Regions from separate parts of the Homo sapiens genome. Here all the other regions are reported to be linked to region 2. The links are microRNA targets in miRTarBase. Many come from high-throughput screens and were not tested one by one. Region 2 holds a microRNA gene; each other region holds the end of a gene's coding sequence.
The links. The annotated mature microRNA hsa-miR-3945 reads AGGGCAUAGGAGAGGGUUGAUAU and lies in region 2 at 2,074-2,096, opposite strand. An mRNA with a match to its seed (bases 2 to 7 or 8) in the 3' UTR can be bound and repressed. Matches are read on the target gene's strand: a 7mer-m8 pairs with bases 2 to 8, a 7mer-A1 pairs with bases 2 to 7 and ends in A, and an 8mer does both.

Region 1: the mRNA of POLD3 is a reported target of hsa-miR-3945. Seed matches in the 3' UTR shown: 7mer-m8 at 587-593 and 8mer at 2,077-2,084.
Region 3: miRTarBase lists RPL41 as a target of hsa-miR-3945. Seed matches in the 3' UTR shown: 7mer-A1 at 2,408-2,414.
Region 4: the mRNA of DDX47 is a reported target of hsa-miR-3945. Seed matches in the 3' UTR shown: 7mer-A1 at 2,281-2,287.

What each region holds. Positions count from the first base shown.
Region 1 is chr11:74,640,516-74,643,633 of GRCh38, forward strand. POLD3 (DNA polymerase delta 3, accessory subunit) reads left to right here. Exons shown (of 12, transcript NM_006591.3): 12 at 49-2,561. The coding sequence ends at 251. Among named protein-coding and RNA genes, the nearest start is that of POLD3, 49 kb to the left of the region's middle.
Region 2 is chr4:184,848,993-184,852,110 of GRCh38, forward strand. MIR3945 (microRNA 3945) reads right to left here and starts at 2,118; the gene lies at 2,021-2,118. It overlaps MIR3945HG (MIR3945 host gene), which reads right to left. Exons shown (of 3, transcript NR_132989.1): 2 at 1,503-1,607. RefSeq lists a silencer at 430-499 and an enhancer at 1,568-1,637.
Region 3 is chr12:56,117,002-56,120,119 of GRCh38, reverse strand. It overlaps RPL41 (ribosomal protein L41), which reads right to left. Exons shown (of 3, transcript NM_001035267.2): 2 at 2,909-2,931; 3 at 2,153-2,638. The coding sequence ends at 2,596. It overlaps ZC3H10 (zinc finger CCCH-type containing 10), which reads right to left and starts at 1,854. Exons shown (of 3, transcript NM_032786.3): 1 at 1,802-1,854; 2 at 969-1,032. RefSeq lists a silencer at 2,130-2,179.
Region 4 is chr12:12,829,030-12,832,147 of GRCh38, reverse strand. DDX47 (DEAD-box helicase 47) reads right to left here. Exons shown (of 12, transcript NM_016355.4): 12 at 2,167-2,725. The coding sequence ends at 2,594. Among named protein-coding and RNA genes, the nearest start is that of DDX47, 17 kb to the right of the region's middle.

The sequences.
Region 1 (3,118 bases), not on the chromosome of region 2:
GTAAATGATTCAGCCCACCCATGTTCCATTTTTTTCTCATCCTACCAGTGACTGAAAAAGTCTACGAGAGTGAATCCTGCACAGATAGTGAAGAGGAGCTTAACATGAAGACATCCTCAGTACACAGACCCCCTGCCATGACTGTGAAAAAAGAACCCAGAGAGGAACGAAAGGGCCCCAAGAAAGGGACTGCTGCTCTGGGCAAAGCCAACAGACAGGTGTCCATTACTGGCTTCTTCCAGAGGAAATAAACTGCCATCTCTGGTAGATCAGAGACTTGGAGTGGTCAAGGGAGAAGACCAAGAAATGTACTCCTCACTTACTATGTAAGTTCATCTAGATCTCCACCTCACCTGTATCAAAAGACTGTTCTTTCATCCTGTGAGGTTTATACTATTTCTGGTTTTTAACCAAAAGGAAATCATCTGGAAGCAGGAGGCAAAAAGCTGTTACCTTCTAATGACATTTAAAAAGCACAGTCTTTGACCTGTCCAGGAGAAGGATTTACTCCAAAATTATACTGGAACAGTTTTCAGAATTCTCACTGAAGCCATTTAGTGGCTAACCCACTGTGCTCCACTCACCCTATGCCCTGGTCCGCATATGGCACAGGAATTATTCCTTCTTGTTCCTCTGTATTCTAAGAATTCATGTGGGTGTTTCTTATCCTTACATTCTGCTGGATACGTTTACCCCTCTTGTCTTCCTGCAGTACCACACTTCTGTCCCCTAACCTCCTGAGGCTGTTCTCTGTAAGTCTTTTAAGTTTTGGTTGGACTAAAGGCTGAAGTGAAAATCTCCCTGTAATCCTCTTCCTCCATTATGCAGTACACGGACACCTGGCTACAGACCAGGACGTGGCTTGTGTTCTGTTCCTTTCACAAAAGCTCTCTGGGACCTTCACTTGCAATTAGTGGTTAGGGAAAAGCCTCAGGCAGAACACAAATAGAAATTTAATGATGTGTTCAACTCCACCAGAAATTACCTCGAGTCAGCATTGACGATATTGGAGGAGCTGCCGTGCTGCTGATACGGGGTGTGCTTTATGCTGCTCTTTGCGGTTTGTTGATCCCCTCCTCCCCCACTCTCAATACCTAGAGAGTGAAACCCGTACAATGAGATAAAGACTAAAAAGAGAAATCCCTTCCTATATACAGTGTGCTACATTTACAAAAAATTTCTCCTTAAGAAAACAGAATATTCAAAAACAGCACTTTTCCAGGAAGTTAGTGAGGAAGATAAGGCACACATTTATTTATAAATGGATGTTGCTCCTTTGTATTTTTAGCTTCCCTATTTGCTTAAAAGTACAGGCTCCCTAAGAGAGGATGGAGAGGGAGAGACTGAATTGTTAGTAGGTCTAAACATCAAAGAAAACATTTTTATTAGTTACTTATGGAAAATCATCTATTACAATGATAACCTTCAAGTGACTTCCATTATGGCTGGACAGGCGGTGAGCTCAGTGGATTGCAGTGGTGTGCTGGTGATTTTGCACAGTGAGCTCTGCGGAAGGGGTCAGGCTCAACTGCTGATGTGTCTCACACGTAGCAGACAAGGGGTGTCTGACTGGCTTCTTTTGCCTCAAGATGGTGTATGTCGTAAGTGATGCAATCAGCTGTCTGCTTTTTAAGGTTGGGATTGTGCTGACTTTGGGATTAACATGAGCTTCTTTAGCAACCAAGCATGAACTTGATTAAGACCAGAAGTTTGGGAGATGAGTCCTGGCATTATGTCTAGGACTAAAGCAGTGGCTTTGTATAGCAAGCTGAGTAAAGGTTGACATATTCCAAAACCCTTCTTTTTAAAAGGAAAAAGGATGGAGAGAAGGATGGAAAGCCTGGACTTAAACCTTTAGAAAAAACTTCTGGAGAGAAATCCCTTTTAAACAGTTACTTTTGTCATTGCCTCTGGTCATTTGTCTAAATAGGAATGGAAAATTAAAAGAAAAGCAACAATCCAATCTTTTTTCTAAAAATTATGCTGGGGTCTCGACTAAAACTGAATTTGAATTGGAAAATTCTGGTGTTGGTTGGAGTTCCATCTTGCAAGGGATAATACAAATCCTATGATCTCTATGCCCAATATGCTGCCTCAACTCTGAGCTGTCTGCAAGGCTTAGTAAGTATTGAGTGGTGTTTTTTTTTTCTTTTTATACAATACCATGTTAACCACATGAGTTAAATAAATTTGAGAAGTTGTTTTAAAACAGTGCTTCAAACTGAGTATCTGATGAGTCTCTTATTTGATGGATGGTAACAGTGTTGCAATTATTTAAGCTCTGAATGGGAAGAAGGCTGGTTTTCAGTTGATATTGTTAAAACTGCATACCCACAGTCTGAGATGAACAAGTTATTTGCTGCCTTCATCGTTTTTTTCAGCACTGGGGAAATGTTAGTTTCAGCCAACCTCATTTTTTAGTTCATCTAGAAGAAAATCTAGCACATTGTATTAGTTTGGCTTCATCACTTGCTAGCTGTATGACTGTGGGCAAGTTTCACAGCCTCAAGTTCTTTATCAAAATAAAACTAAAATGAGTTACCAAGGGTGTCAAGACTAAAGTCAAGTGTATGTAGCATGAATTCGGTCCATGTTGGCGGTCACATACGCGCTCTACAAAATGGTGGCTTTCTTTCTGATGTCATAAGTGATGTAATCAGCTAGCAGCTTCCTGAAATGTTATCAGTTATACGACCCAGGTGGTATATTCTTCAGTCATTCTGGCTGTACATGTAGTAAAAAGGGGAAGATAGTTGTCCTATTTCATGAAAGGTTTAAAGAGAGTAGATATTTTCCTACTGAAGGAATTATAGATGCCTATATTTACTGTTCATTTATTGTGTATCTACTATGTGTCAAGCCCATGACCTGGGGACTAGAGGATATAATAGAAACCATAGAATTTGGCACTTGATCCTCACAATTTAGTGGAAGGGAAAGCCAGTAAAATGAAATGACAGTGCCATATGTGAGTGCAATGTACAGGGTCCTCCAAGAGTTCCCAGGAGGATGGGTATCAAGGCAGTCTTCCTGGAGCAAGCAGTTCTTTGAATGATGAGCAGGATTTCACCCAGCAAAGAGGAATGGAAATGACTTTCCAGGCAGAGGAGCATGGCTT
Region 2 (3,118 bases):
TTATATATCACAATAACCTTTCAAATAGGCAAAGCAAATATTATTTGTATTTTGCAAATAAAGGAACACAACTGAGAATTGGAGTAGAAAGGTGGATTTGCAATGAATTTAATGAAGTTTTCACTTTTAGAGCCCCTCACTAGCACTGACACCTTCTTCCGAGGCCCCAGAGGGGACCCAGAATTGTGTTCACATGGTCATATGTTTCGTAAATGTTCAGAGGTAAAGTATCTTTACTACAACTAGTTAAGTCTGCTGTACCTTCACTTCAGCCTCCCTTCCATCACATCCCCTTGCGTCAGGTGTTACTGGGCATTTTGGAGACCCAGCTAAGGGGAAATTGAGTTATAGCTATATTTAGTTTTGGTGGAGTAGGTTATAATGATGTGGTTTTCAGTAACTTCAACACATGGTTAAGTTATTACTGGGCACCCCAGTGTAGAAATGACTTCCAGGAATACTCCTATGGCTTACTGACTAACTCAAACAGCATTGTGACACTAAAGTCCAGGACCAGAGGTCATACTGTGGTATGACTGTATCTCCTAGTACCCAGAATTCGCATGAAAATATATGGGTAGTGGAGAAAAACAAGGTTTGAAAAGTACATCGCCAGAAGCTAGTCTGTGGAGAATTCTTCCAATCAGATATAAAATTACAAGGACAATACCTTTGTGTATAGTTCTGGCTTTTAAAATCTTTTTAATGTTTCACATATTCAAAGAACAAACTTAAAATGAATAAGGTCCGGCAAGGTTACAGGATTAAGAGCAATGTACAAATATTAATTGTATTGTATACAGTAGCAATGAGCAAACCAAAAATGAAATTAAGAAAGTAATTTCACTTAAGATAAAAATTCTAAAATACTTAGAAGTAAATTTAACAAAGATGTACAAAACTTATACTGTGAAAACTACAAAGCTTTGTTGAAATAAATCAAAGAAGAAACCAAATAAATGTAAAAACAGTCTATGTTCATGGATTGGAAGATTTAATATTCTCAAGATGTCAGTGTTAACATAACAAGATGTGTGTTATACTTTAGTTTTTAAAAAATGGCCAAAAACGTGGTGGGATAGTTGAATATGATTCATCCTTCCCAGACCCACATGACCTGAACACTGTGATGCGTTATAATGGCAGGGAGAGGAATTTTGGATTCAACCTGATCTGAATTGGAACCCTGGCTTTATTATTTACTAATGTATGTCTTTCCTCATTTTTTCTTGATGTTGCTGGTTCTGATTTTCTTCATTTGCTCAATAAGGATGATAAATAGCTACTCCTCAGGGTTGCTGTGGGGATCAGATATGATACGAGTAAAGGGCTGGCACTACTGGTTTCCTAAACCCAACTCCCTTCCATCTTGCCCATGTCCCATGCAGGTATTGGAAAACCCAAGCATTGACTCTCCAGACCAGCCTCGCACCTAAGAACGCCGTGGGATGCAGTTTCAGACAGTGAGAAATCTGCTGGGGATGCCTGGGAAAGGGACATACCTGGCAGGTGCCGCTCCATGGCCTTCTTGCTGCCTTGAATTGGGACATGAGCCTGAGTCGCAGCAGCCGTCTTGTGACTGAGAGGTGGCAAGCAGGAGGAAGAGGCTAAGAGAATAGAGACACTGTTGAGCTGCTGAAGCACAGCAAGCGGCCACTTCTCTATGCTTCTTGCTATTTGACTGTTAAGCTAGTGCAAGTTACTTTTCTGGTCAGAATGAATTCATAACTGAAACATGCTTTAAAGTATGACTATTATTATTAAATGCAGCATAAGCTTTCCATAGCTGCTACACGATCACACCCACTGCTGTCTCAGACTGACCAGTGGCCGACTAAACATGACAGCAAGTACTGTTGCCAGCCTCTGCCTTCTTATACTTGTGGAGTTTGTTTAAATCTAAATTCAGGACTCACCCTGTTAAATTTTATCTCCTTAGCTTGTCCCCTTCTTTTCAGAGATTTGCAATTCAAATTAGTATTATAACCTCAATTGATATATGGCTGTGGACCAGTCAGGAATCATTGAATCATCCCCCACTTTGGAAAGCATAAGAGGCTGTAATTGCATTTTATATCAACCCTCTCCTATGCCCTCCCCGTCACGTGCATCAACATCTCTTTTCTCTCAGAAAGACCTCATCTTATTTGAGGTGATATTTGAGTACATAGTTCCTTTTAGGGTACTGGGGACCTTTTTGGTGGTAGGGTGGAGAGTGTGCACCACAGAGACTAGTCACCAAGAGTCCCTGCAGTTAAGTCTGCGTATCCTGTGCTGGTGAAGGGTGGATGGGCTTTATGCAAATCTCTGCTTGGCTGCAGAATCTCCCAGTGAGATGAGCAAGGGTGCTTTGCAGTCAGTGTTGAAACCCCAGAAGAGCAGGAAATGATGCTGTTCCTGCCCAAAGGCAGAATGAAATGCAAGGAAAGGAGAAAAACATTATGACATAAGTATTAAGAAAGATGCTGTTTACGGGAACTCTGAAAGACTGGAATTCAGAGCCGCTACCAATTAAGAAAGTTAATGATGACTTGCAGCAGGTTTGCAGAAAGTGAAAGGAAGGTGAGGCTATTTAATTGCCACCATAACAGAAGAACTTGTAGAAAATAGGAATGGGATCACAATCATTATTAACTCATAAAAAATTTATAGGGTGCCATTTCTAATACGACACTGTGCAGGGATACTGCAGTCTAGCGTTACCTCCAGTTTAGACAGGCTGAAATACATACAGTTTCTCATCTGTATGAGATAAGGTGATATAAAATGAAGCTGATCGGGCTAGTTTATTGGATAAAACCAACAACGAAGGGAAATAAGTAACTATTTATACAACATGGTAACTATCTACATTGTTCATTAGCAGACGATGTTTGTAACTGGAGATGAAATGCATTAAGCATGTTTGGGAAAGGAATAAATGGGATGTAACCATGGAAGTCCTATGCTTAACCAGGGTGGGGAGGGGGGCAGGGATATAGAGAACTTCAACTAGACAGGCCTGGTGGAGAAAGTGTGTGTCTAAGAATTACTTGCAAAGTGAGCTGTGTCAGGGAGCATCCTGGTGCATGCTCCAAGATATGTTGGATAACAGTTGAGTACAACTCATGATGGAATT
Region 3 (3,118 bases), not on the chromosome of region 2:
AGAAGATGGGACACTGGTAACAAAACTTCCTTAACCCCCTTTCCTTTTCCTCAGGTAAGGGCTCTGTACACATCAAATCTCTAGAAGCCAAGAAATCCTGGGTGAAGAGACTGGTGTCACCAGCTTGAGGGGAGTCTCAAAACCTGTCATATTTTAGTATTCCCTCCCAGCCATCATCACTGTCAACGGCAGAGAGGTAAGCCCCTTCTATTTCAGGATAGGAGTTCTAAGTTAGAGTCTCCACTTCTAGATTTCCTAGGACAAACCATTTGTGATAAGGTCAAGTGGGAAGGAGTTAATTTCACAGGAACAAGTGACCTTTCCCCATTCCCCACCCCCTTCCTACTCCCCTATGTGAAGATCCCACTGACATCCAACCACACCATTCCTCAACCCAGAAAGATCCTCTTTATTTATAGACTCCATAAAAGCTTTTTAAGTCTCCTATTTCCCAAGAGAGCTTTGGAATGTCAGTCCACTGCCCTGGTTCTAGCCCTCCCCTCTCTCCACCCCCAGTAAGACCTGGAGTCCCTGCTACCACGTGTCTGACCTCCCAAGCCTTTCCTATGCGGTGTTCAGGCTCCCCCTGCTGCTGAAATAGGAAAACTTCATATTGTTCCCTTTGAGAATAAGGGAATCTTTCCTAATTCCTTTGGCCTTGACCTACCCCCACCCCACTACTGTGACTTTGCCTTCAGATCTCCCTAAAATGAACTAACCAAACCAGAGGCCAGAGTTACAAGAGAATCTGTAAGAGGGTCCTCCTCCTCTAAAGAGAGGTAGTCCCAGAATAATAGAAGCAATCAAGGAAAGAAGTGGTAAAAGAAGATACAAACTTTTAGTAAAGGGGAATGACCAGGTGAAGTACAAATGCCATCTATCCAAGCCTGGCTCACGTTGCAAGTCGCACCAGCAGCAGATAATTAGTTATGATGCTCCTCCCCACCCCACTCTCCCAGAATTGATACCTGAGGTAGCTCAGGTGAAGTCCGGGGCTCCTGTGGGTCTCCACCTCCACATCACTGCTGGGTTCTGAGCAGGAAAAAAACAGAGACTTGGGTGGAAGAAGGAGTAAGAGTGGAGGACTATGGGGTGGTTGTCACAAGAAATCTGACAAAACGGCAAAGCTTCGAGAACGTGAGGATTTCCTCAGGGTTCAAACTGAACTTCACCTGTCCAAGGGAGAAGTTGCCAGTAAGAAGAGTAAAACTAATTCGGAGGGACTGGGAGGAGGGGTTGGAAAACCAGCCCTGAGTGAACAAAGAGTGCGGGGCGCCCTGCCTCAAGATGAAAGAGGATGTGAGGGTCAGAGCACCGCCAAGGGCTGGAGTTAGTAATGGCTAGTGAGGAACCTCAAAAAGGCAGCGTCTGACAGTGCATTGGGATGGCCGATTAGACTTGAAGGCAGTGATTGTGACGCTTCCCAACACCCTAGAGTTTGCGAAAGAAGTCCTAGGAGTTTTCCCGCAGCAAGTCTTCTAGCTTGGCAGGTTCCGTGCAGTGCCGCCGGCGCTCAGCCGTGGGCTACGTGAATGGGACACTAAGGGCGCGCGAAGTGAAGCGGGGAGCTGGAGCTCCAGGTGTCATCAAGCTGAGGGGATGGGCAGGGTTGTGACGTCACGAAGCTGGCGTTTGCTCGCGATGCGGGGTCACTCAGAAAAGGGGCACTGCCCTGGGGTGTGAGGACGAGCCAGCTCGGTTCTGGGGGGCCTTCTGTGGCCTGGCCGAGCCCAGCCGCTGGGCCGGCCCCGACTCCTCCCCTCCGGGCGCGGCCTCCACCTAAGTCTCCCGCCTCCCTCACCTGCCGCCGCCGCCGTAGTTGCTGCTGCCGCCTGCCGGTCCTCTAGCTTCGACAAAGAGCCGCCTACCCGATCGCTCTTCCGCTTCCTGCGGAAGAAGTGACGCTCTAGCCAGCAGACCCGGAACCATACTCTATGGTGTATGAAGTACGCGTGCGACATGCCGCAGGGCGTTCCCAGCACGCTTTGCGTGTCACTATGGCAACCCAACCCAAAGGCACGACATGGTCTAAGCGGTAGTCGCCAAGGCAGCCCTCCTGGAAAGGGGCGGTACCAGCATTGGCCCCTAATAACCCGCGAAACCTAAAACCTGCCTCCAGAGACGTACCATATCCCATCCAACTCCAGCGAGATGCAAACCACACCACGTAACCCGGGCTGTTGCCTTTATAGCTTTGATACCCTCCATAGCACAGGTAGTGACAGGGCAAACTCTAATGACAGAAAACCCCCACCCGATGGAACCATAAAAAACATAATAGACAAGATGATTTAATTCTTCAGCTAAAACAGCGGAAGAGGTGATTTATTATATGGTTGTTACACTCGGCCACAAATAAACACAGAAATAGTCCAGAATGTCACAGGTCCAGGGCAGAGGACCAACATGGGCATTTTGTTTATGAGCAAGGTGGGTCTCAGAGGTGATCGGCGATCAGAGGGCGATGAAGTTCTAGATCCATTGAGACAAGCTCTAGACAGTAGCATGCAGTCCCACAACTTGTACCAGCATCCCCAGCGTCTGGCATTCCATGTTTCTGCTCCTGTGGCCTCCACGGTGCAACAAGCTAGCGGTTTACTTGGACCTCTGCCTCATCTTTCTTCTTTTGCGCTTCAGCCTGAAAAGCAGACACAGGAATGGAATACACCTCAAACCAGAGTTGCCTTTCCCTCCCACATTAAATCAAACGTCCACATAAAGAATGAGGTGGTAAAATGAACAAGCACTACGGTTCTATCGTTCTCTGTTCTGTTAAATCCTGGCTCCAGGGAGAAAACACTCAAACGTTTTTCTCCTAAAGATCTTTTAAGATTTCCAAACCAAATGTTTCTCCTAAGTTTTGTCCAAGGAACTTCCCTCCTCCTGGGCTGGCAAAGTCTCAACGTACCTGCGCATTCGCTTCTTCCTCCACTAGCAACCGATCACAAGCAGCAGATAATTAAAAAAAAAAAAAAAAAAAAGGGATGAAGCTTATTAGTAGGCTTAGCAAGGATATGAAATGCACTCTTTAGAACCGGACAGATTCTTAACCAAGAAGTATGAAAGATTGGTCGTAACAACTACATCAGTAACTTGGACACCCTCCCAACATAAGATC
Region 4 (3,118 bases), not on the chromosome of region 2:
ATTTTTTGTATTTTTAGTAGACAGGGTTTCACCGTTTTAGCCAGGATGGTCTCGATCTAACCTCGTGATCTGCCCTCCTCAGCCTCCCAAAGAGCTGGGATTACAGGCGTCAGCCACCACGCCCGGCCTGCCTCCTACTCTTTACTCCTCACCAGATACTCTGACTTAGATGGATAAGGAAAGTTTCTTTTCAGCCAAACTTCATTCCAATCTTAATCCATCAAAGTGATTATTTAGACGCTCTTTACCTTGGTTCTGCCACTCCAGACACACTCTTCTAATAAAACTGTTATAGACAACAAAAAGTATTAGGCATCTTCTATGTGTAAACATCCTCAGAACATGAGACTGTTTGTGATTGGGAATTTCCAAGTTGTTTCTGAATTTCAGTAACCCTCCCCCAACAACCAGCCCCTAGAGTGCCAATGCCTACCTCCTCCCCTGGAGCTGAGGCCCCAGCTCTACATCTCCTGCATCGCCTAATAGATGAGGACAAAAAAGATGAGTGGCCAGTGGGCACTAATGACAAGTGGATGAAATTAGGTCTCAGAATTATACATTTCTGAGGCATATTGATTTTATTCTTGTCACCTGGGGAAAAGAATCTACATAAGAGGCAGAGTGGCCGGGTGCAGCAGCGTACACCTGTAATCCCAGCACTTTGGGAGGCCGAGACAGGTGGATCACCTGAGCTTGGGAGTTCAAGACCATCCTGGCCAACATGATGAAACCCTGTCTCTACTAAAAATACAAAAATTAGCTGGGCATGGTGGTGCGTGCCTGTAATCCCAGCTACTTGGGAGGTTGAGGCAGGAGAATCGTTTGAACCAGGGAGTTGGAGGTTGCAGCGAGCTGAGGTCGCACCACTGCACTCCAGCCTGGCAACAGAGCAAGACTCTGTCTCAAAAAAAAGAGGCCAGGTACAGTGGCTTACACCTGTAATCCCAACACTTTGGGAGGCTGAGGTGGATGGATCTCTTGAGCTCAGGAGTTCAAGGCCAGTCTGGGTAACATGTCAAAACCCCATCTCTACAAAAATACAAAAATTAGCTGGGCATGATGGTGAGTGCCTGTAATCCCAGCTACTCGGGAGGCTGAGGCAGGAGAATCGCTTGAACCAGGGAGTCAGAGGTTGCAGTGAGCCAAGACTGTGCCACTGCACTCCAGCCTGGCAACAGAGCAAGACTCCATCTCAAAAAAAAAAAAAAAAAAAAAAAAAAAGAGGCCGGGTGCAGTGGCTCACACCTGTAATCCCAACACTTTGGGAGGCCGAGGCAGATGGATCTCTTGAGCTCAGGAGTTCAAGGCCAGTCTGGGTAACAAGCCAAGATCCCATCTCTACAAAAAATATAAAAATTAGCCAGGCGTGATGGCATGTGCCTGTAGTCCCAGCTACTCAGGAGGCTGAGGTGGGAGATCACTTGAGCCTGGAAGGTCAAGGCTGCACTGAGCTGAGGTCATACCACCGCACTCCACCCTGGATGACAGAGCAAGATTATCTCAAAAAAAAAAAAAAAAGAGTCTATGTGAGAAACCAGTCTTCCTAACCACCTGCTTAATTGAGGGAATGAAGGAAGTAAATCTATTTAGGGATTTTAAAGACCTCTGCTGTCTTACTGATAGACTTTGCTCCATCTGCAAGAAAAACACAACCTCCTTTTTTAAGTAGAACTTCTCTTTTTTTTTGAGACAGAGTCTCGCTGTTGCCCAGGCTGGAGTGTGCAATGGCGCGATCTAGGTTCACTGCAAGCTCTGCCTCCCGGGTTCACACCATTCCCCTGCCTCAGCCTCCCGAGTAGCTGGGACTACAGGCGCCCGCCACCACGCCAGGCTAATGTTTTTTTTGTGTGTGTATTTTTAGTAGAGACAGGGTTTCACGGTGTTACCAAGGATGGTCTCAATCTCCTGACCTCCTGATCTGCCCATCTTGGCCTCCCAAAGTGCTGGGATTACAGGCGTGAGCCACCACACCCGGCTGGGGCTTCCCTTTCAAAGCCATCCATCATCTCGTTTCCTTGTTGATTTTTTTAAGTAATAAATATTTATCTTAATTAGGACAACCAATGAATTTGCCATGTAATCAACACTGTCAGGTTCTTACCTATTAACAAGATCTTACTTAAATCTATAAGGCCCTTTAACACCAAGGTCTTTAAGGAGTTAGAATCTTTTAAAAATAATATTTAAATTTATTGTTTCACATTAGTTTGAATAAAGCACAAGCCAAGATGGTTTAAATATCATTTGCAGATGTCCAAGCTTCTTTACAATTACAGGTCATGGGCATCATCAACCTAGTCCTTGACTTGCAGCTAAAAAAGGCAAAAGGTCTGTGTGAAGTGACAGAAGAGCACACCCTACTCATGTCATGAGCAAGGAATCAAAGTCGAAGAACAGTAACAGTCTTGACATCAGCACTGTAAGAATTACTCTGCAGTAAACTCCAACCCAGAATGGGGAAGAATACTGAATTAGCTGAGCACATTCTGGACACAATTCTGACCAATTTCAGTCTCATGATCTCTGTTGGAGCAGGTTTCATTCTCCAATTCTCTTTTACAGAACAGCAGAACTCGAGCCTTCATAAAAGTGATTAACGGCCTTTCCGCTTCTTCATTTTTCCTCCAGCCACCTTGTTCCTGACACCAATAGCACCCTCTGTGTCATCATTATCTCCAGCATCCTCTCGCGAGCGTTTCTTCTTTTCTCCATGCTCCCTTAACTCCTGCAAGAAAAAAAGAGAGGATGGGATTGAAAATGAATTACTGGCACTGAAGGTTACTCATTCTAGTCCCCTCTCCTTAAGATCAAGTATCAAGTAACTTGCTGATGCCTGACATTAGCAAAGGAACAAGACCCAACTCCAAATATACAAAGATGTTAACCTTATTAGTAATCAAAACGTGAACACTAAAGTAAGGTTTTATTTTCACATGGCAGATTGGCAAAGACTTAAGAGAAGGGTAATCCCCAGTATTGGCCAAGGTGTAGAAAAATTCACATATACTCTCATTTATAGTGCAATCTGCTATAGCTTTTCTTGGGGCGGGGGACAATTTGGCATTCTGTATGAATTCAAATTTTAACTGTGTATGTCCCTTGGCCCAACAAGTGTACT